4 linked regions of the Homo sapiens genome follow. The protein of the gene in region 3 purifies or fractionates together with the protein of the main gene of each other region. This does not show direct contact. Each region holds a gene or a part of one and is shown on either strand. Other genes may lie near its edges. The genes, in order: AKAP11, PPP4R3A, CRAMP1 and ARHGEF9.

The links.
Region 1: the proteins of CRAMP1 (region 3) and AKAP11 purify together in Homo sapiens (affinity purification with mass spectrometry; 2 studies listed by BioGRID and IntAct, with this or other methods). This does not show direct contact.
Region 2: the proteins of CRAMP1 (region 3) and PPP4R3A purify together in Homo sapiens (affinity purification with mass spectrometry; 2 studies listed by BioGRID and IntAct, with this or other methods). This does not show direct contact.
Region 4: the proteins of CRAMP1 (region 3) and ARHGEF9 purify together in Homo sapiens (co-immunoprecipitation; one large-scale study listed by IntAct). This does not show direct contact.

What each region holds. Positions count from the first base shown.
Region 1 is NC_000013.11:42,277,111-42,283,236, forward strand, and holds part of AKAP11 (A-kinase anchor protein 11), read left to right. Parts: intron 1-6,126. UniProt on the Homo sapiens protein: Binds to type II regulatory subunits of protein kinase A and anchors/targets them.
Region 2 is NC_000014.9:91,456,635-91,462,760, forward strand, and holds the end of PPP4R3A (serine/threonine-protein phosphatase 4 regulatory subunit 3A), read right to left. Parts: coding exon 6,101-6,126; intron 5,606-6,100; coding exon 5,415-5,605; intron 4,974-5,414; coding exon 4,747-4,973; intron 2,236-4,746; coding exon 2,125-2,235; 3' UTR 874-2,124; downstream 1-873. UniProt on the Homo sapiens protein: Regulatory subunit of serine/threonine-protein phosphatase 4. May regulate the activity of PPP4C at centrosomal microtubule organizing centers.
Region 3 is NC_000016.10:1,613,717-1,619,842, reverse strand, and holds part of CRAMP1 (protein cramped-like), read right to left. Parts: intron 5,205-6,126; 5' UTR 5,204-5,204; coding exon 4,858-5,203; intron 1-4,857.
Region 4 is NC_000023.11:63,679,926-63,686,051, forward strand, and holds part of ARHGEF9 (rho guanine nucleotide exchange factor 9), read right to left. Parts: intron 1-6,126. UniProt on the Homo sapiens protein: Acts as a guanine nucleotide exchange factor (GEF) for CDC42. Promotes formation of GPHN clusters.

The sequences.
Region 1 (6,126 bases), on a different chromosome or scaffold from region 3:
CATCCTTATAATATTGCCATACACATATACAAAGTTTTATTATAAATCAGTTGTTGAAAATATTTTTGAAAGTCAAATATATTACAGATGCACACTCAATAGTGAAACTAAGATAATCATTTGAGGGCATATATCCTTTACAGTGATTTCTTAAAACTGTATTCAAATGTAGGTCTAATGAGTTTTTTATTATGAAAATGTTAACTGTTTTATCCTCCTGCCTTCATCTGATTATTCTAATTAACTTCTAACAATGGACCGTTGCATGTTTAAAAGTTGTGTTTATTGTTGCTGAATAAGTAGTTTTGAAGTCAGTAGCCATTCACACTTAGTACTTTGTCAACTAGACCCATGTTATTCCTTTCAATACCAGTGGCTAGTTGGGCTCAAACATACCTTATAAGTAGATCTCAATCTGGAATGCAGTTGAAAAATCAATAATTTTTCTCTGTGACTGTTTGGGAAAACAAAAGTGACAGAACAAATATTCTTGGATTAATTTTGTAAAAAGTCATTAGGTAAGTGGCCCTATTTTCTATTTGGTGATGTTGCTTTTGCCACCAAATGCCTGTCTGCATTCACGTCATTGATGAAATTTCTCTTCACCGTACAGCTCGTTCACTTCAGTAAATCTATAGTTGCTTATTATGAGTAAGGCCTTTGGGGAATGCAGAGATGAGTAAGGCATGGCGATGGAATGAAATTCACTGTTGTATCCCAATCACTGTTACTTAGACGCTTGGTGAATGTATGTGTTGAACGTTGGTAGTACTTACAGTCCAGTGCAGGGCATAGACATGTAGACATTTAACTGTTACATAAGGCACTGTAGTCTAAAGTGCTAAAATAGGGTAAGTGGTGATTTTGCTCCCCAAGGAAATGTTTGGTAATATTTGGAGACAGTTTTGGTTACTGCAACTGAGTGCTACTGGCATCTAGTGGGTAGAGGCCAAGGAAGCTGCTAAGTGTCCTACCATGCATACACAGCCTCCTACAACAAAGACTTATCTGACCCAAAATGTTAGTAATGCTGAGATTGAGAAACTCTGTAGCGGTAAGAACATATATATTGTGAATGCAGGAATGAGGTTGAGGATTAAAAAGGAAAAAGGCAGAAACTATAAAGAAGCAAATATCTTAATAGATATTAAGACATACTAAAATCATTTTATACGATTGACTGTTGTTTTGAAAAACAAAATAGTATCTGATAGCTGTAGTAGTTTTAGATTTTGTAAGTCAAATAACAGGTCTGTACCCAAGAAAGGAACTTAGCTTCCTTATTTGCAAAAAGGGGGATAACATCACTTTTATTCTGCTGTTCACCTATTAGGTATTATTCTGTTTTATTTTTCTAGTGTTTGTGTTAGGGTTTACAAGATAACTTATTACAGGTTTTCTTCAAATAACATCACTTCATGTTTAATGTAGAAATCTATGACAGTCTTTTTTTGTCTCCATCTCCCCTGCCACATTTTTTATCCTATTTTGTCATACATTTTATCAATATGTCTGTCTTAAACCCTCTAATTAATTGTTACTATTTTTAAACAGTTATATTTTAACTGTTTAAAAGGGATTGAAAAATGAAGAATAACTTCTGTTACCCTCATATTTACCATTTCAGATGTTCTTTATTCCTTCGTGTAAGATTCAGATTTCCATCTGGTATTGTTTTACTTTGCCTGAAGAATTTCTTTCCATAGTTACTCTAGTGGTGGTCAACTGGTGGTGAATTTTCACGGCCCTTATTCATGTGAATAAATTTATTTTGCCTTAATTTTTGAAATACATTTTCATTGAGTATATCTGGGTTGATGCTTTTTTTTTTTTCTTCTTCTTAGTACTTTGAAGATAGTGCTCCATTGTCTTGTTTTCCGGTTCATATAGATGTGAAGTCTGTTGTCCTTGGTTCCTCTGTATATAATGTGTACTTTTTTTCTGGTCAATTAATATTTTTTCTTTATCACTGGTTTTCAGCCATTTGGTTATGATTTGCCTTGGCTTTCTTTATGTTTATTCTTAGGGTTTGCTGAGCTTCCTTGGTACTGTCAGTTTACGGTTTTCATCAAATTTGGGAAGTTCTCTGCTATTTTGTCTTCAAATTTTTTTTTCTTCTGCACCCACTTCCCCAGTGCACGCACGTGCACACCCACACACACACACACACACTCTCTCTCTCTCACTCACTCACTCGCTTACTCACTATGTCTCTTCGTGGAACTCCAGTTATTCACCTTTTATGGTGCTTAAAAAGTCACTTACACTCTACGTTTGTTTTTAAGTTTTGTCTCTCCATGTTTCATTTTGGATAGCTTCTATTACATTGTCTACAAGTTCACTGAGCTTTTCTTCTCTAGTTTAATCTGTTAATTGTATCCAGTATGGTTTTCGTTTCAGTATATTTAATTTTCATCTCTAAAAGTTCAATTTTGGTGTCTTTTGTATCTTCTCCTTCTCTCCTTATGGTGATGTTTTCCTCTCACTTCTTGAGTATATGGAACATATTTGTACTATAGTTTTACAATCCTTTTCTGTTCCTGCCATCATCACTGTCATTTCTAGGTCTTCATTTATTGCCTTTTTTTCTCTTGGTTATGGTTCATATTTTTCTCTTCCTTTGCATGCTTGGTAATTTTTATTGTATGCCAGCCATTGAGTTTATACTGTTGCTTGCTTGATTTATTATATTACTGAAGTGTGTTGGATTTAGTTGGGGTGCACAGTTACTTGGAATCTGTTGGGTTGTTTCAGGGCTTGCTTTTAGAATTTATTAGTGTGGGTCCAGAACAGTTTTTAACGTAGTGCTGAATTATTGTCTCTACTAAGGCTGCTTCTACTAAGGCTGCTACTTCTTCTGAGGAGTCTATCATTACCTGATACATTACAAGGTTTTTCTATTCTGGTGGAATATATTATGGTTTATCTCTAGGGCTCTCACTTACTTTCAGCTCTCCCTCCAGCTTAATACCCTGTAAATTCTAGCCATCTTGGTCTCTCCAAACTGATCTGTGTTTAAAACTCAGTGAAACCACCAGACTGCTTGGCTTTCCTGTCCCTGTATTGTGACCTGGAAGTAGCTGGCAGCCAGTGTTTCCCTTCTCTCAGGGATCACAATCCCGTGTTCCCTGTTGTCTGATGTTTAAAACCAATGTTTCATATATATTCTGTCCTGTTTTCTTGTAGTTATATTCAACAGAATATTAATTTTTAACACTTGGCCATTTGGCATTTGGTCAAAATGTGTATTTGGAGTGTTTACTCTAAATGTGATCTCAGATACTATAAAGTAGAAATTATTGGAAACACAAATGTATTTTCACAAACTCATTAAATGTAGACATACTCATTTAAATATTTGAAGGCATACTTTGCTCTTTATTCTGTTTTATATTTTTCAGCCTACATCATGCTTTGAACTTTGTTCTTTAAATATGTTACTTTTTATTTATTAGTTCAGCAGATGTTTGAATGCCTACTATGTAAAAATACATAAAACACTTTTGTCCTCATGGAACTTACAACAGGAGGGAAGTATGCAAACAGTGGCACCAGAGGATTAAATTATAAACCACTTAGAGAGCACAAAGGAGGTGGTTACTATTTGGGCAAGGAGGGATAAAGGAGAGATATGAGCCAAGCCTATTTTAGGGAGGGAAGTTTTTGAACTGGTGCGTGAATAGTAAGTAGCAGTTCAGCTGGTGGAAGAGAGAGGGTAGATTTGAGAGAAGTTTAGGAGAATGACAAGTCAGGATTTGGCAATTTACTAGGCGAGGTAGTCTGTAGGAATTGAGGGGAAGACCAGTTTCCAGCTTGGCCTACTGGTTGGGTTTGGTTTAATGGCTCTTACTGAGATAGAGAATACAGGAGGAGATCGTTTAGGGAGAAAGTTTTATTTACCTTTTGAACATACAAATTTTGGAGTAACTGGGATATTTAGTTGGAAGTGTCTAATAGGAAATTAGATATACAGAACTGAAGAATAAATTAGGGAGTTATTTGCATAGTTAAAACCAGAGGTAAGGATAAAATGTCCTTGAAAAACTAAATAAAATGAGACAAGAGGATAAGGATGAAGACTAAGAAATATTAGTATTTGAGTAACAAGTTATGAAATAATTTAGGAAAGGAAACTTACATACAGAGAGACAAGTTTTTCTCAACCAGAAATTACATGTGGCAGTTGTTAAAAGTACAGATTCCTATGTTCCATGTAGACCTGTTGAATTTGGATCTTCTGGTGGGGGAGTTGTGTGTGTTAGAAATAAGCTGATGTGTACAGGTACTGAGGTTTGAGAACTAGTGCAGTAGGAAGAGAGTCAAGATATGGCAATATTGTTGACAGGCGCTTCACAGACTGGCATAGTTAATTCTCCTGATACAAAAAAGGTCAAGTAATAGGTGATGTCAACTTGAACATTTCTTAGGTCAGAGGAGATAAGGAAAGACTTGGAGAATATATATTTTTTAATTATAAAAGAATTTATGTTCATTCAGAAAAGTACAAAACTCAACATACATAGACACAAAATGAAACACCCATGATTGTATCTACCCAGATGAAACCAATGTCTGTACTCATCTAGTGTATGTCTTCTTTTATATTACATATATAGATACACACATGTAGTTATACAGATTTTTCACAAAATGGGATAATGCTAATATGCCAGAACCTGTCTTATTTTACTTAATGATCTACCATCTTCTCATATTGTAGATAGATGACATTTTATAAAATTTAAAAGTCCCACTTGCATGGGTGACCACTGGCATCAGTTTAGTGTACCTCCTTCAAGTCATTTCCTGTGGATGCACAAATATTTACATATGTGTGTCAGAGTTGTGTCTGTATATAATTTTTTCTTTCTTTTTTTTTTTTTTTTGAGACTCTGTGGCCCAGGTTGGAGTGCAGTGGTACAATCTTGGCTCACTGCAACCTCCGTCTCTTGGGTTCAAGCAATTCTTGTGCCTCAGCCTCCCGAGTGGCCGGGATTACAGGCATATACCACCACACCCAGCTAATTTTTGTATTTTTAGTAGAGTCTGGGTTTTGCCATGTTGCCCAGGCTGTTCTTGAACTCCTGGCCTCAAGTGATCTTCCTGCCTTGGCCTCCCAAAGTGCTGGGAGCCACTGTGCTAGGCCAGTCTTTTTTTTTTTTTTTTTTTTTTAAATTACAAGTGAGAGCATCCTATTAACACCATTCTGCAACTTGCTCTTTCACGCCAGTATGGATCACTCTAACTCATTATTTCCAATAGCTGAGTAATAATCATGTGAATTTATTTGAATTGATGAACTTCTAGATTATTTTCAGTTTTTTCATTTTATTTCAGTGAATAGTCTTTCACATATCTTTGTGAATTTTGTGCAAGTATATATGTAGGATAAATTTTAAGAAGTGAAATAGCAGGACTAAAGGATATGTGTATTTATTTAAAGTGCCCTATATCTCTGTTCTCTGTATTCTTTATAATTGTTTCTGTAATTGCTTTCATTTGTTTACTTTTGCATTCTGTGATTTTTCTTAAAATCTTCTTGGTTTTCCATTGTTTTTAGCAATGTCTGTTCTGCTTTTTTGTTATTTCTAAGGGGATTTCATTTGTTTAGTGATAGTTTTCTGTGTGTTTCCTGAGCTATAGTGGTTCACTTCGTAGTTGTTTGCCTTGTCTGCCTCTTTCTTGTCTCTCATCTGCTTTTTTCCAAGCCATGTAGGTTCACTTTAATTTCTTTGACTATAGATAACGCACTTAGTTATTCTTTGCTTAGGACTCTTGTTTCTTCATCCAGAATAGGGCACAAAGCAGTAAAGCACTAAATGAAAAGTTTATCATAATACAAATGTATTTTAGGTGAATATACTGTATTTTTGTTCTTCTTGTGAAATCTGTCAAAAACGATGTGCTCTCTAATTATATAAGATGCTAAAGAAATCCTGCTCTAGTAGCTGTTATCCTTTCTTCCCCCATCAATCTTTGCATCATTTCCAAAGATGATTTTTTTCTTTGCTTTACAAAAGTATGTCATATCATCTCATATTGGATTCACTTTTATGTTGCACAGATATTCTCTAATAGATTTCTTTCTTCCTGAGACAGTATTTTATTTATGTTTAAATGAAAAAG
Region 2 (6,126 bases), on a different chromosome or scaffold from region 3:
ATTCCTTCATAAGATGACAAGCTGTTTCTAACCTCATTTCTCCTGTTTTAGGAACACTTGTGTCAGGTTTCTATTTCAGTAACCATAATCACTAATAACTAAGGGAACACAAAAGTCCATCAATGAGAAGTCATCTCTTAACTGTGGAAGGCCAGCAGTTAATATACTGGACCACAAAATGAAATCAAGTGATGCAAGTTCTTCCCTCAATCTAAGAACCTGCAGAATACCAAGACAAGTGTTTCAAGAATCATCCAGAAAGGTCAGTTTTAAACTATATGTTTAAAGCAGAAACATTACTTGGCATGGGGCTTTCTAGGTAAAAAAGGAAGACATAATATAATTGGCTTAGATCCTAAGAGTTTTTCTTCTCTTTATTTGCAAGATAAGTTGATTAACTTCAATTATTAATAGCCAAAACTTGTGCCTCCTAATTAGATCTATACTCTAGTGAGATATAATCTCATAATTAAGCACCCAAAGTTTTTGTTGTTAAAAAAAATTATCAGCCAATAATAAAACTTTTAATGACTGTAGCAAGTTGACACTTTCTGGTTTTCTATCCAACTATGCAGTATAGTCTTGTTTTTGGTACCACCATTGTAATTTACTGAGGAATAAACAAGACAAGACAGAGAAGCACACAGCGCTTGCTAGATACTCTTAAAGTATATGATACTTAAAATAGCATCCTTTCCTGGATATGAAGTTTTATTCACATTTGAAAATATATTCTTAAGTTCTAAACTCTTCACTTTAAAAAGTGAGGGTAAGTAGAATTATTTTCATTTTCCTTGAAATAATTTGATCACATCTAAGACAACAAAAAGAACCTATTTAAAAATACTGTTTTAATAAGGTGACAGGTGATGGTCCTCTGGCCAGGTATTTATTTAGAAACCACCACTTACAAGTCAAACTGGTATTCCAAAGGGAGTAGTTAAAAACAAAAACAAGAAACATACAACTAATACAATTTCTCTTACTCTTCACTTTTCTTTTTATTATTCAAAAGTCAAATGTTTTTAAATCATCCATCCTCAATTTTGATTTAATGTACCGTCATTTCCCCAAGAAAAGAAATTTCAGAATCTCTTTGGAATACTAATTTCATGTTTCTAGATTTAACAAAACTGTTGAAGTTTTAAATTCCATTCTATTTCCCTGAATTCTCAAGACAGTTGCTGATGTAAATTTTAATATAAAATATTTAGTCACAAAATAGTATTGCTTTTGTATGCACATAGTTGTAAGATTACTTTGCTTTTGTCAATAAAAACTATACCATCTTTCATAAAACTCTAAACAAATTAAGAACTGTGATGTAGAACAAAAATTACACATGGTAAAACAGGTACCAGCACAACGTTAGGTTATATTACATCAAAAAAAGTTTTAATGGTCCCAAATATATATACTCAACAACTAAGCATACACTCAGGGGAGGAAAAAAAAAATCAAAAACAAAATAAAACAAAAAAATTATGACACAAATGACCACATCTAGAATTCCACTCAATCTTTAATCAAGTAGGGAGAAGTCCCCACTTAAAAAAAAAAATATCTGCAGTTTGAAGGGCAAAGGGAACAGTTAAAAAAGAGGAAAACTTTATACTCGCCCCTCCCCCACAGAGGTTTTCCAAACCTGTTGTAGCTTGACTAAAATGTTCAGAATGTATGATTTTAAAGGCAGGTCTCTTTATACAAAGAAACTGCTGGCATTCTTGACTAGTGAAGAATTATGGCAGAAAGGCCCATTCTTCTGAGTCTCAAACATGGTCCAAGAAAGCATATTCTGATTGTAGCAACTGACCAGTCAATCCAGAGTTCCACTTACAAAACCCCTGCCCTGTTGGCTTTTTGTTTCCATTTCCTTCCCTGAGAAAAGGGCAATGTGTGGTCCAAGCTGGAGAGCTCAAAGGCTTAAGTCTTTCCCCTAAATATATGATATCCCCTCCTCCTGCTCCATTGAATTGGCACTTGATGAGCAGAAGTCAAGTGTAAGAGGCTGATCTGTGTCAGTCATTCACAAGAGACCACTGCGCTTTGTTGTGGATTTTGTATGGGGGAGGGGTGGAGAACCAGTTTTTTTCAACAGGTACTGATCCTAGGCCGTTGCCATTATTATGAATCAAATTTTGCTTTCTTTGACAATGGTAACGTATCTTCCTTATCTTCATCCTCATCATCATCTTCATCATCATCAGGATAATCTACCAGACCCACGAGGCCTCCCTGTTAAGAAATAAGGATTATTTAAAGAACAGAAAATAAAACATATAAAAACACTGGTGTTTTCTGGCTGGAGAAAGAAAATAGATCCTACCAACATAGTAACGGTGGTTATTTCTGGGTGGTGGGACTGTGTTAAACTTCAATTCATTATGTTTACATATTTTCTAAATTTCCTGTAATAAACATGCATACTTTTTTACAATAAGGGAAAACTTTGAGTTAATTAGAATTAAAGCAAAAATTTTTTTTTTCCAAGTCGGAGTCTCGCTATGTCACCCAGGCTGGAGTGCAGTGGTGCGATCTCGGCTCACTGCAACCTCCACCTCCCAGGTTCAAGCAATTCTCCCTGCCTCAGCCTGCCGAGTAGCTGTGATTACAGGCGCCCGCCACCACGCCTGGGTAATTTTTGTATTTTTACTAGAGACAGGGTTTTGTCATGTTGGCCAGCCTGGTCTTGAACTCCTGACCTCAGGCGATCCACCTACCTTGGACTCCCAAAGTGCTGGGATTACAGGCATGAGCCACTGCACCCAAACTAAAGCAAAAAAATTTAAGTAGTTTATAATCCTAGCAAATTACCCAGGAGTTAGAAAATGAATGAAAAATGTTTGTTTCAAGACTTAATAGCATCTTAAAATTTTTTTAAACATAAAGTCTAAAATAGTATAAAAATGAGGCTGAGCATGGTGGCCTGTGCCTGTAATTCCAGCACTTTGGGAGGCTGAGGCGGAGGGATCACATGAGGACAGGAGTTTGAGACCAGCCTGGCCTGTTAATTAACATAGTGAAACCCTGTCTCTAATAAAATTACAAAAATTAGCCAGGTGTGGTGGTGCACATCTGTAATCCCAGCTACTTGGGAGGCTGAGGCACAAGAATCGCTTTAATCTGGAAGGTGGAGATTGCAGTGAGCTAAGATCACGCCACTGCACTCCAGCCTGGGTGACAGACTGAGACTCTGTCAAAAAAAAAAAAAAGTACCAAAATGAAAACTGCAGCAGATAAAGAGACCACCAGAAATGAGGGTAGACAGGCTTTTTCTATTTATTAGAGGTTAGGAAAGCAGTTCTACCCTGACTCTTCCTCATCATTTCATCTGGGTTTCCTTTTAGCCCTGCTCCTTCACCAGAAACCACTGCCGCTTGCTTTATTTATTTTTTGAGATGGAGTCTCACTCTGTCGCCCAGGCTGGAGTGCAGTGGCGCCATCTCAGCTCCCTGCAAGCTCCACCTCCCGGGATCACACCATTCGCCTGCCTCAGCCTCCTGAGTAGTTGAGACTACAGGCGCCCGCCACCACACGCGGCTAATGTTTTTGTATTTTTAGTAGAGACGGGGTTTCACCGTATTAGCCAGGATGGTCTCGGATCTCCTGACCTCGTGACCCACCCCCCTGGACCTCCCAAAGCACTGGGATTACGGGCGTAAGCCACCGCGCCTGGCTGCTGCTTGCTTTATTTCGATGCTAAGGGAAAAATTCACACTGCTCTGCTCTCAAGCCTGCCTCTTCATTTCAGCGTGTCTCAGATTCACTTCTTAGCCGTCAGGAGTCTCCAGCTCACGCCAGAAAAAAAAAAGACTGAATGGGCATTACGTGTCTGATTTAGATCAGTGATTCCCAAATGCCAGTCTTTTAACTGCTAGTCTGCTAGCCCAATAATCAATATATTATGTCTCAAAAGAAAAGGGTGGTTGGCATAAGGAGCCCCCAAAACTGGTTTTATTCTGAGATTGCATGTTTTCTACATTTTTTCTTAAGATTTTGTTCCTTTTTTTTTTTTTTTTTTTGAGATGGAGTCTCGCTGTTGCAGTAGCGATCTCAGCTCACTGCAAGCTCCGCCTCCCAGGTTCATGCCATTCTCCTGCCTCAGCCTCCAGAGTAGCTGGGACTACAGGCGCCCGCCACCACGCCTGGCTAATTTTTGTATTTTTAGTAGAAACGGGGTTTCACCACGTTAGCCAGGACGGTCTCGATCTCCTGACCTCGTGTCCTGCCCGCCTCAGCCTCCCAAAGTGCTGGGATTACAGGCGTGAGCCACCGTGCCCAGCCCTTGTTCATTTCTTATATGAAATGTTAGTGATAGTAGATGTTTAATTTTCTTAACAAACCTTAACTGGCAAAGTAAAGTTAGAAGTACCCAGATATTTAGATTATCATTTCCCCACAAAGGCTTTATCTGGGTATTAGTTAGGAACATTTATTCAAGAATAACTGAAAACCTTGAACATTTCTGTAAATGTTTTGACATACAAATTTGAAGTTTCAGTTCTAAAATCCAAAATACCCAAGTGAGAATTCACACTATATGCAGACTTGCATTGGTCATAAAAAAAACTTTCAGAAATTTCTCAACCTTTATATAAGTTCAAGCGGTGGGGGGGACTCATCCTCTAGTTCAGGGATGTTAAATCAGTTCTAGGTGGCAGTAACCAAAGGGAATCTTAGTCAAAATTATTGTTGAGAAAGCTTCAATTGGGAAAAAAGGGGGCAAAATGGGAGTCAAGAATGTACCTTTGTAGTAATAGCTGCCGTCTGAGATGTATTTTTAGGTACGGATCCAGGAGAGCCTGGAGATCCTGGGGATCCAGGTGATCCCGGAGAACCAGGCAGATTTGTTGTAGATGACTGGCTGGTGAGGTTAGTCTTCGTTCCACTGGACAGGGAAAGCTTGAAACTTGGGCTCTGCCGTCCAGAAAGGTTTGTTTTCAGAAGCACTTCCTTTTCCTCACTTTCTTTTACTAAAAATGAGAATACTGTCAATAGTCGTCCCCCATACTTCTTTTTTAAATTTCCCCAAATGAGGTAACACTAAAACACATTTAACTAGCTTACTACGCTGGGTAGAAACATTGAAGTTCAATTTATAAAAGAAGCTTACCAAAATACTAACCACAATTCCATTCATTGGATCTTACCCCAGAGAAGAATTGAAACCTTCAGAATCATATTTAGTATCCCTACCCTTCCTGAAATAGTATATTCCTTATTCAACTCAAATTAAGAAAACTTAAGTTTATGCCTACACAACACTGCTATTCAGTCACATCCCATAAAGCAATAGAGTCTTTAAACCGTATGCCATCACACCTTCCAAGCAAATAATCATTTTGTCAAGAAATAAGAATAAATCTAGAGTAAGAAAGCCTTAATTTTCTCTTGCCCATTTTTTTCCAACATACATTTCTTCCTTTCCATGAATTTACTTATTGGATCCATAATATCATCATCATTTTTAGTTTTGTCAGATGGAGACACTACAGCTTCTCCATCTTCCATGTCATCTTCATCTGTGTTAAACCACATCTCTTCTTCATCTTCTAGTGTTCTGGCATCTCTTCGATATCTGTGATTCCTCAAAATGGAACGCATACTATGAGTAGGGAAGAAAGAGTAAATACAATCATATATGGACTTAATTGTACTGTTACAGATGACTTATTAAACTTGTTAACATAGGGAATTAACATGAAATTTACAAATATTAAAGTATCAATGTAAATCCAGGTATTTAGATTAATGTACAAAATTTTAAATAATAATTTGTAACCTTAGTAACTTGTAAATTCAAAGCAAGTAATATAATCCTCTGATTTTATTTGGAACACATGAAGCCTCACTTCCACTGTTTGGTCTTTTTTTTTTTTTTTCCCTTATCTAGCCTGATACATGCCTGAGGTATTATACTAATAACCAGCCTAATCTTCAGGGAAACATTTATGTTGACCCTTACAGGAAGCTACAATTTCTATTTGCTATCTGCTGATTTCCCTGTTCCTTGTCAAGCCAAATAATATCAAATAAACAATAAAGCCACTACCATACGACTTGATGCTGAACGAATAGGTTTAAATATATGGTAATTTACCTGTCAAGTTTGGGATTATCTTGCCT
Region 3 (6,126 bases):
CTGAAGCTGACCTAAAACCTAATGGTCTCCACGACACCCTCTGGGAGTCACTCATACTGTCCCCTTCTCTGCCGGGACTCCCACCCTCAGTGCCTGCAAGGCTCAGCGTCCTCCTGCATGCTCTGACCAGCGCTGTCTCTCTTGAAGATTCTCCCTTTCCCCTCCTACAAATATTTGAGAGAAATACAACTAGAACTCCACTGTTTGTATAAAAGCGTATGCCCTCTTCATGAAATACCAGCAGATTTTCTAATTGTATCCTGTAGGTATTGCAAGATATCCCAACTAAACTACAAACTCCTGGAAATGTCTCCTTTTTTCAGTGTTTCTAACGTGGTTCTTTAGTGTTAAAAACGCTGTTGTGCCGGGCGCAGTGGCTCACGCCTGAAATCCTAGCACTTTGGGAGGCCGAGGCAGGCGGATCACCTGAGCTCAGGAGTTCGAGACCAGCCTGGGCCATACGGTAAAACCCCATCTCTACTAAAATAAAAAAAATTAGTCGGGTGTAGCAGCATGCGCCTGTAGTCCCAGCTCCTCAGGAGGCTGAGACAGGAGAATTGCTTGAACCTGTGAGGCGGAGATTGCAGTGAGTTGAGATCGCAGCACTGCACTCAAGCCCAGGCGACAGAATGAGACTCCGTCTCAAAAACAAAACAAAAACAAAAAACAAAACCCCGCTGTTGTTACTTATGTGACAAAGAGCTTCTACACACCACTTTATACAACGATGTTAATTTTCACATTTCTGACTTTGCAATCATGAATCATCTCCCTGTTATATCCTTACATAAGCCACAATAAGATACAAAAATGAAAATCGAAAAGTCTACCTCATTAGACAACTTCACAACAACAGACACCACAGAAACTAGTTTTAATACCAAAAGTATACAGGTATTTGAAAAGCAGCTCAGCCTTCAAACCAATGTTCAAATTTTGCCTTACCTACTTTATCTTTTTTGGTTTTGTTTTGTTTTTGAAACAGGGTCTTGTTGTGTCACCCAGGCTGGAGTGCAATGTCCACAGCTCACTGCAGCCTCCAACCAGCAGCCTCAGGTGATCCTCCCACCTCAGCCTCCTGAGTAGCTAGGACTACAGGTACAATCTCTTATGAGACATCTTTTTGAAACATCTAGAAACTACAAACAGTCCACAGATTATACAAAATATAAAGAGTAAATTGTGCACAGTCGTTTACCGATTCCTACACACAAACGACTGTCACTTCAGACTACATTACCCTATTCTGGAGATGGTGCATTTCCCCATCCTTGATGGAACTGAAGTTCTTCGGGGTGAGAGGGGGACCAAAATAAGCAGAGGCTCTCTGTCCCCACCCCCAGTGTTCTCTCATCCCATCTGCCCCAGCAGAGCACCAGCATTCCCGGACTTCTACTCACCCCACAGGTAGGCTCCCCACCCCGCCAGCCTGTGCAGCCTCCTCCTGCAGTCCTGTAATCTTGAAGCTGCATGCATTTTTCATGGCAGAAACACCAGGTGCCTGTAAAACACCTTGTGACTTAAGGCAGGTGTTTATTTTTATATTTATTTATTTATTTAGAGACTAAGTCTCACCCTTGTTGCCCAGGCTGGAGTGCAATGGCGCAATCTTGGCTCACTGCAACCTCCGCCTCCCGGGTTCAAGCGATTCTGAGGCAGGTGTTTATTTTATCCAAAAGATGGACTAGTTTGCCCAGGGCTAGCTGGATCATGAACTGGCCAAATAGGGAAAGGTATCAGGACTCTGTCTCCTGACTTATGTCTTTCAGATGGTTTCTGCGGCTCTAAGCCGAAATCTCCAGTGCGTCCCAGGGTCACGTGGGTGGTGTATTAGAGCTGCAGGAATGTCTGTTTTGGGATTTCTGGTCTGCAGCTTACCTTGAGTTTAGGTTGAGCATGTGACTTAAACAATCTACTTCAGGTTCTGCACTCATTTAAAAGCAAAATTACAGACATGCAAGATGCCTGGCAAACAGGCACTAAATCCCAGCTACCATCGCTTTATCAATGCAAGAAGATTTAAATTTGAAACTGAACTAGAAAAAAAAGCATTTTTCATTGAAGTCAATAAGAGTGTCTTCTTCAGAGAAAGAAAACACACTTGCATGCAGAAAAGCCAAACAAGCAGACTTTCCTTTTCTCCACAAGTCCTTTCTTCCAAATTCACTGTAAGAGTCTCAGGCCCACTGAGATTGAAACTGGCCAGGGCAGTAAGTAATCAACCAAAGGAACTGCCAGTGATTGAGCTAAGTATTCCTTAGGCATAATAGAAGTTACATCATTTCCAAGTGAAAAATTGAAACATGAAGTATTGATCGTTTCCTCCCTGACAGATGCTCACCACTCCAGATGCAGATTTCTCCAGAATGTAAGAGGATTCTCCTCTGAGCATCTTTCTGGAAGGTGAGCTAAAGACTGTTGCGGGGCAACTGCCACCACCTGGCCTTCTTTTCTGACGGGTAATGGAAGCAACGACTGAGCAGAGGTCTCTCCAAAGACTGGTGTCAGAGGATGTCCTGGGCACAGTGAAGTGCCTCCCAAAGCACTGAGGAACCTGAAAGCAGAGAGCAGCGGACAGGCAGCCTTCCTTCCCGGGAAGCTCCAAGGCAGACAGTGGCCGAGAAGTTCTGTGATGCAAAGGAGACCCACTTCCTACTCCTCTCCTAAAAGCCACCATCACAGCTTAGCTTATTATTTGCTTAAAGATATATTTGCTTGTGGCCAGGAGCGGTGGCTCATGCCTGTAATCCCAGCACTTTGGGGGGCTGAGGCGGGAGGATCACAAGGTCAGGAGATCGAGACCATCCTGGCTAACACGGTGAAACCCCGTCTCAACTAAAAATACCAAAAAAAAAAAAAAATTAGCTGGGTGTGGTGGCAGGCGCCTGTAGTCCCAGCCACCTGGGAGGCTGAGGCAAGAGAATGGTGTGAACCTGGGAGGCAGAGCTTGCAATGAGCTGAGATCGCACCACTGCACTCCAGCCTGGGTGACAGAGTGAGACTCAGTCTCAAAAAAAAAAAAAAGATATATTTGCTTGCTAAAGTGGGATAATGGATATGTCACGAGGAGCACAAATTCTAATAAATTTGCATTTTATTAATATTAAAACTTAATGAAAAGTCCCACGCTTCTCCAAGCCACACAATGGGACAAGAAGCAAAGAAAGAAGTGCCAGCAACCTAAGTGTGAGCCAAGCTCAGGAAACCTTCTGCACCTTAGCAAGCCACTCTCAACTATACAAACAAAAGCAAGCCTCCCCTCGTCCCAACTGCCAAAAATTGACCTGATCACTAACGTCTCAGCAGCACTTCACTTATACATACAAGTAGCCACGTACACGTCTGAGAGTGCTTTCACACCAATGCACTATTTCATTTTAGCAGCCGCACTTCAACGGGGTGAAGTAGCTGCTCTCATTCCTTGCCTCACAGGTGAGGACACCCGACAGAAAAGCATCTCCAAGAGGGTGAAGGGGCAGAGCAAGGTTGGAGGCCAGGGACATGGGGGACGAATGCCGGCTGGATTCAAGGTCCAGGGCTTCTGAACCATGAACAACAAACCTTTGAAGGAACCATGGAGCTTATATGAGCTTAGACATACCTGTAACTAGCAATAAAAAACTAGTAACAAGCAAAGCCACTCATGTTTTCCAAATTGATCAGCAACTTTCACATCAAAATAAATTCATATGAGGCAAGTTTTAAATTCTGAAACATGCTAAGTTACCTTCTATTTACATCTTTAAATAAGTATACTTATATCAGAATTCTTTACCAATGAGTAAGGCCATGATTCCGGAGGCCAGCCTTCTTCGGTTGAGAATGCGGCAGGAGAAGTGGGCTTAATGGAACACATGTGGCACAGATCTCCAAAGCAGGTTCTCCATTAGTTCGTAATATATTTCCTTGTCAAAACTACCAGGACCATTCACTAAATGTAAACGAGCATTTCCCAAGGAAGGAAGTGAAAGATTTTTTTTTCACGTGAAACTCACTGGAAGCTGATGTTATATTTGCTATTTATACAAAGTGCTGCGAACATGGTCGGAAACAAAAAGAATCAGAGTCATTCACCTGCGTAAGGAAAAGCACAAGACTGAAATAGAAATAAGAGCAGACAACAATGAAGCACTGGCACATGGAGAACGAAACTAACATGCCGTTTTCTTACTATCTTGGTAAGAGACCCCAGCTAAGTAGCAACATTCTCCATCACCTCAGAATACAAGGGCGAACACTACAAGCTGCTGCTTGTTCATGTCAATCGTTTTCACCACTCTTTCCTTTCTTTGGCACAGAAGTAAACCCCAGTTGCAACTCAAAGGGCCCCATCTCTATGCCCTTCCTACTCTCAACCCAGGAGCACTTGAAGGAGAGGACAATGGGTCCAAGTCAGACCCCAAGGATCCTTTCTCCGCTTCTTACCCATCTTCCCCCCAATGAGTTTCAAAAGCCTGCTCCCTTGGTGCATTTCCACCGCCTGATGTCTGGGAAAGAGATACAGCAGGTATTTTTTTCTCTTCCCGTTTCCGAACTATTGTCCGCTGTTTGAAACACAAAACCATAGAAAACCATCAGTGATCCTTTGGAAAGGAAACAGCTTTAAGGGATCTCTTCGACTCCCCCCCAAAAAAGGATACTCACTGCCTCTTCAAAGAGTTTAAATATAGAAAGTCGCAGCCTCTTCGAAGGAGAGAGGGGACACATGCCCCATAAGTGCCACCCAAATTGAGAGCCTCAGTGTAGGCCGCGGGATGGGTGAGCTAGGGTGGAGCCCGGCTGGGGCGAGGGGTTCCTCTCCCCCGCGGCACACCCCGGAGAGGGGCTGGGGTCTCCCAAGGGGACGGGCCGCCCTACCTTTTCCGCGGGGCCCCGAGCCACCGGCGTTGCCGCTCCCCACAGCGCTCGGAGGATCCTTCCTGGGCCTCTTGCTCTGCGGCCGCACGCTGGACCGGAGGAAGTGGTGCTGGTCCTGGGGGCTGCCCTGCGGCGGGGACGGCGCCTGCGGCGCGCCGGGGGGCGCGGGGGGGCCGTCGGCGCCGGCCCGGGGGGTCTTCTCGTCCCTCTTTGTGCCGCTGCTCTCCTCGGCCGCGTCTGCGCCGCCGGCCCCTTCTCCTTCCAGGGACTCCTCATCGGCCGCCCGCTTGCCCAGCTTCTTGAGCCCGTCCTCCCCGCTGCCGCCGTCGCCCAACTTCACTGTCATCCTGCGGCCGGGAGAGGGGAGGCGGCCGGTGAGGCGGGCGCAGGCCGGGAAGTTTAGCGGCCCCGACGCGCTCTCAACATGGCCGCCGTTGTTTGTTCCAAATCCCCTCTCGGCGGCTCGGCCCGGCCCGCCCGAGCCCGCCCGAGCCCGCCGCGGCCCCTGCCGCCCCCACGCCGCCGCCCCCGGCCCTGCCCACCAGCCCGGGACCCTCCCGGGCCTCCCCGGACGCCCCCTGGCCGAGGCTCGCGTCCAGACGCCCGGGCCGGCGGCGGGAGGGCGCGACAGCTCGGCGGACCCTGCCCGGCCCCGGCCCCGGCCCCGGCCCCGGGGTCTATGGGAGCCCCGGCGCGGGCGCGGGTCTGGGCACGGTTGCGGGTCCGGGCCGCTGCCCCGCCCACAGCCACCTACCCGGCGGGGCCGCGGCTCATGGCCTGGCCCTGCGCGCCGGCCTCGCTCCCTGCGCCGCCTCGGCCGGCCGGGCCGCAGCCCCAGCCCTAGCCCCTCGTCCCACCCCCTCCCCGCCCCCCGAAAGGCGCGGGGCTCCCGGGCCCCGCGCACCTGCCCCACGCGCCGGCCCCCAGAGCTGGCCCTGGAGGAGGACAGAGGAGGCCGGATCCACCCCGGGACGGGAGAAGCGCGGGCTCGCCTGCCCGCACGGGGAACTCCATGGTGGCCCAATGCCGCCGGCCCGCCTGCTTATTTTAAAACACACATAAAGAATAATCAGCTCCGGGTCTCTGGGAATCTTCTTCCCAGGGTGGGAAATGTGAGCTGCTGCGGGGATTTACTAGTTAAAAATGCTTTTGCAACAAAGGAGCCTGTTGCATGGAACAGGTTGGAACCACCCGGGAAAGTGACAGCCCAGTTATGTCCGGGTCCAGGTGCAAGAAGCGGTAGAAGACAATGGTGTTAAAACTCTTGGC
Region 4 (6,126 bases), on a different chromosome or scaffold from region 3:
TATGCATAAAATCCTAAGAAATCTACAAAAAAAATACTGGAACCAATTAGTGAATTTGGTTATGTGTCAGGACACAAAGTCAATGTACAAAAATCAACCGTATTCCTGTGTAATAGTAATAGACTATAGGAAATTGACATTTTAAAATACCACTTACAATGGCAGCCGAAAAAATTTTAAATACTTAGAAATCAACTTTTAGGAGAGGATGTCAGTAAGATGGCAGAGTAGGAAATATCGCCTTCCTTTCTTCAGCAAACAACAACAATTTGGTAGCTATCCATGAACAAAAAATAATTCTGGAAAAGCTTAGGGGTCCACTTAAGAAGCCACAGCAATATAGTGAAAGAAAAAGTCAGAAAACAAATACACAAAACGAGTAGGAAAAACAGTTTCATTTTGCTTGCATCACCCCGTCCCCATAGCTGGTACTGCTCATTATGAAACAGCAACTTGGATCTTGGATCTTGTGTCCTACATACAGGGAGGAGACAGGAGTGTACAACCAGCTTCCCCAGCTTTATGGGACACTGCCCTAATGACCAGCTTCAGTTTCATCCCACCCAGATCTCTGAAAAGACAGATATAGCCTAGATGTCTGGAAACAGCAGAGAGCAAAGAATAGGGATTGGTTATATCAGTATCAGCAAAGTAGCAGGAGTCGCAGTGATCTGCCGTGGCCTCTTTGGCACAGGGCCCCAGTAGGCCTCTCTGTCAAGGACCTCAATAGCCCTCATAGCCACTGGGTACCTCCTGTAGATTTTACCTCTCAAGATTCTTCAGTGTTCACAGTCACAGACCCCAGAAGCTTTTTCAGCTTTTCCTGCTGAGAAAACCAACTGCTAGTATAGTATCAGCAGACGCCCTGCAGCTTATACTGCTAAGGGTCCATGGGTTGTTTTTTCTTCCTTTTGAGTTTTAGGAGAAAAAACAAACAAACAAACAACAACAACAACAACAACAACAACAAAAAACATGCCTGAGCCATGTCCCTTCTTCTTCTCTACTTCCTGGAGCCACCCAGAGCTGCCCAACTGCTGCTGTGGTTACTATAGCCCAGTGGGAAGGGGTGATGTAGGCCAACAGCTTTCACATTCTCCAGATCCCTGATCCACCAGAGCTTTCCCTCCCCCATGCCCAGAGCTGCCTGAGCTACTCCTACCACAGGTGCCTTGGCAAAGGGACTCAGCACAGGAGCCTTTGCATTCTCTAGGTACTTAAGCAAGTACTACCTCCTTGGATGCTCTGGCCCAGTGACCCAGCACAGCTACCATGCATGTACCTGCAAACAGCCCTAGGGTCCCAAACTAGGGATTCTAGTCTCACTACCACATGTTACCAAAGCTGACCCACGCAGACAGGCTATCACACAAATTCTTCTAAAGCACACATGGAATACTGTCCAGAATAGACCACATGCTATACCACAAAATAAGTCTTAGCAAATTTAAGAAGATCAACATCATATCAAGTATCTTTTCTGGTCATGATGATATAAAACTACAAGTCAGTAACAGGAAGAAAACTAGAACATTCTTAAATCAGTAGAAATTAAACAACATATCCCTGAATAACAAATGGGTCAAAGAAAAAATCAAAAGGGAAATTAAAAAATATCTTGAGACAAATGAAATTGAAAGCACAACATACCAAATCCTTTGGGATGCAGCAAAAAAAGTTCTAAGAGGGGCGTTGATAGCATTAAAAAAAATCTGAAATAAACAATCTGATATTCCACCTCAAGGAACTAGAAAAAGAAGAACAAAGTAAACTCAAAGATAGCAGAAGGAAAAAAATAAAAGATCAAAGCAGATATAAATCAGAGAACAGAAAAACTTAGGGAAAAAAATCAACAAAACTAAGACTTGGTTTTTAGAGAAAAAGAATATAGGTAAATAAAATTAGAAATGAACATGAAGATATTACAAAAGATGTCTCAGAGATGAAAAGGATTACAAGGGACTATTATGAACAATTATATGACAACAACTTGGAAACACCAGAGGAAATGAATATATTCCTAGAAATATAAAACCTACCAAGATTGAATCAAGAAGAAATAGAGAGCCTGAACATTAACAAATAAAGAGATTGAAGTAGTCATTTAAAATCTCCTAACAACAAAAGATCATAGGACCAGATGGCTTCACAGCTGAATTCTACCAAATACCCAGATAAGAATTAGTAGCAATCCCTCTTAAACTCTTCAATAAATAAATAAATAAATAAATAAATAAATAAATAAATAAAAGAACTAAAGGGAATACTCCCAAATGATTCTAAAGTCAGACAGAAATACAAGAAAAGGGCCAGGCGCTGTGGCTCACGCCTATAATCCTAGCACTTTGGGAGGCCGAGGTGGGCAGATCACAAGGTCAGGAGATCGAGACCATCCTGGCTAACATGGTGAAACCCCGTCTCTAATAAAAATACAAAAAAATTAGCCAGGCGTGGTGGCGGGCGCCTGTAGTCCCAGCTACTTGGGAGGCCGAGGCAGGAGAATGGCGTGAACCCAGGAGGTGGAGCTTGCAGTGAGCCGACATTGCGCCACTGCACTCCAGCCTGGGTGACAGAGCGAGACTCTGTCAAAAAAAAAAAAGAAGAAAAGAAAACTACAAGCCAGTATCACTAATGATCATAGGTATAAAGATTCTCAATAAAATAGTAGCTAACCCAATTCAGTAACATATCAAAAAGATCATACATCATGACCAAGTGGGATTTATCCCTGGGATGCAAGTATGGCTTAACAAATCCAAATCAATTATTATGATACATTACATTAGCAAAAGGAATAATTTAAAAACCACACGGTTATTTCAATAGATGTGGAAAAAGCTTTCACAAAGTTCAACATCCTTTCAGGATAAAATATCTTCACAAATTAGGTATTAATATTAAAAATTTCCTCAGCATAAGAAAGGCCATTTATGAGATGCCCACAGGTAACATCATAATCAATGGTGAAAAATGGAAAGCTTTTCCTCTAAGATCTGGTATAAGACAAGGATGCCCACCCTTGCCAATTTTATTCAAAATAGTACTAGAAATACTAACCATGGCAATCAGATAAGAAAAATAAATAAAATGCATCCAAATTGGATCAGAAGTAAACTAGCCCTATTTGGAGATAAGATGATTATATATGTAGAAAGCCCAAAAGACTCCCTCCAAAAATTAAAAAGAAAAAAACCTGTTAGAAAAAGTGAATTCAGTAAAGATGCAGGATACAAAAAAAAAATCAGTGTACAAAAATCAGTTGCACTCTTTATACCTATAATGATGTATCAAAAAAAGAAATTTTAAAAAATCATATTTATGATACCATCAAAAAGAATGAAATACTTAAGGAATACATTTATTCAAGAAGGTGAAAGATCTGTGCACAGAAAACCAAAACACCCTGATGAAAGAAACTGAAGAAGACACAAAGAAATAGAAAGATTTCCCATGTGCAAGGATTGGAAGAACCAATATTGTTAAAATGTCCCTACTACTCAAAGTGATATAGAGATTCAACACAACCCCTATCTAAATTCCAATGGCATTTTTCATGGAAATAGACAAAAACATATATAAAATTTCTATGGAACCAAACTAGACCCTTGATAGCCAAAGCAACTCTGAGAAATAAAAATAAATCTGGAGGCATCACACTCTTTGATTTCAAACAATATTAGAAAACTATGGAAATCAAAACAGTATGGTACTAGCATAAAAACAGATATACCAATGTAATAGAATAGAGAGTCCAGAAATAAACCGAAGCAAATATAGTGAACTAATTTTTGACAAGAGCACCAACAGGACACAATGGGGAACGTATAGTCTCTTCAATAAATGTTGTTGGAAAAACTGGATATCTATATGCAAAAGAACAAAATTGGGCCCATATTTTAGACCATACACAAAAATCAACTCAAAATGCATAAGAGACTGAAACATAAGAGCTGAAATAATAAAACTACTAAAAGCACTACTGCTGTGCTTTTTTATATGACACCAAAAGCACAGGCAACAAAAGCAAAAAGAAACAAGTGGGACTGCATCAAATTAAAAAGCTGCTATGCAGAAAAAAAAAGTCAACAACATGCAAAGGTAGCCTATAGACTGAGTGAAAATATTTGCAAACTGTAAAGTGGTTAATATTCAAAATATACATAAAGTGGTTAATATATATAAAATATATAAAGTGGTTAATATTCAAAATATATAAGGAACTCACATCACTTCACAGCAAAAAAAAACAAATAAACAAATAAACTAATTAAGAAATGAGCAAAGAATTTGAATAGACATTCCTCCAAAAAAGACATAAAAATAGCCAACAGGTATACGATGATGCTCAACATCATTAATCATCAGGAAAATGCATATCAAAACCACAATGAGAAATAACCTAGCATCTATTAGGATGGGTATTATCAAAAAGATAAGACATAACAAGTGTTGACAAGGGTTTAGAGAAAAGGAGACCCTTGTACACTGTTAGTAGGAATATATATTGGTACAGCAGCCACTGTGGAAAATAATACCTTTAAGATGTTCCCAAAGAAATCAAAAATAGAATTATCAAATTATCCAGTAATCCCTCTTTTGAGTATATGCCCAAAGGAAATGCACTCACTACCTTGTAAAGATATCTGCACTCCCATGTTCATTGCAGTACTATTAACAATAGCCAAGATGTGGAAGCAAACAAAGTGTCCATTAATGGATAAATGGGTAAAGAAACTGTCGGGTGTATATGTATATGTAATATGTTGCCTATATTTTAATAAATTACCTCTATTTTTAATTTATTTATATATATATTACATATACATACAGAGACACAGAATAGAATATTATTCAGACTTTAAAAAGAAGGAGGGAAGGAGATTATGTCATTTGTCACAACATGGAGGAACCTAGAGGACATTATGCTACATGAAATAATCCAGTCACAGAAAGAAAACTACTGCATGATTTCACTTATATGTGGAATCAAAAGGAAAAAAAAAATGAATACATAGAAACAGATTAGGATGGTGGTGACCAGAGGTGAGGGGGTGGGAGAAAATGGGAAGATATAAGTCAAAGGGCACAAAGTTGTAGTTACACAGGAAAAGTCTAGAGATCTAACCTACAGCATGGGGACTAGAGTCAACATTATTGTATTATACACTGGAAATTTGCTAAGAGAGTAAATTTTAGATACTATTACCACAAAAAAGTAACTATGTGAGATGATATGTTAATCTGTTTGACTGTAGTCATCACTTCATCATTTATATCAAAACATCACATTGTACATCTTAAATTTATACCTTAAATATTTTTTAAAACAATCAAATTTTAAAAGGTCAAAATCATACAATGAAAACTAAAAAACAATCCTGGGAGAAATCACAAAAAAATCGAAATAAACAGTTAAATGTTCATGGATTTGAAGACTCATCATATCAATGTTCCCAAAACTGATCCACAGATTTAATGCAATCCCAACCAAAACACTGATAGGGTTTTTGTTTGCTTGTTTTTGGTAAAATTTGGCAAGATTATTCTTAAATTTATATAGAAATACAAATAACCTAAAATAGCTAAAATTGTTTTGAAAAAGAACTAAGTTGGAGGAGTTATGCTATCTGATTTAAAGACTTGCTATGAACCTATATTAATCAAGAAAGTGGGTTACTATTACAAGAATAGTCATATAGATCACTAGAACAGAAGAGTATACCTAAAAATAGATCTGCACATATATGCTTAATTGATTTTTGACAAAGGTGCCCAGGCAATTCAATAGGGGAATCAGTATTTTTTAACAAATATCCATACAGAAACCAATTAACCTTGATCTGTATTTTGTGCCATATATAAAAATTACCACAAAAGGGATCATAGGCCTAAATGTAAAAAATAAAACTATATAACTTCTATTTTTAAAAAAGTAGAAAACCGTTATGATTTTGAGATAGGCAAAGAAAGTAGGAAACAAAAAGTATGACCCATAAAATAAAATAAAGCGATAAACTGGATTTCAATAAAATTAAGATACTCTTAAAACTAAAAATCGAATTACCATTCAATCCAGCAATCCCATTACTGTGTATTGACTTAAAGAAAATAAATCATTATATCAAA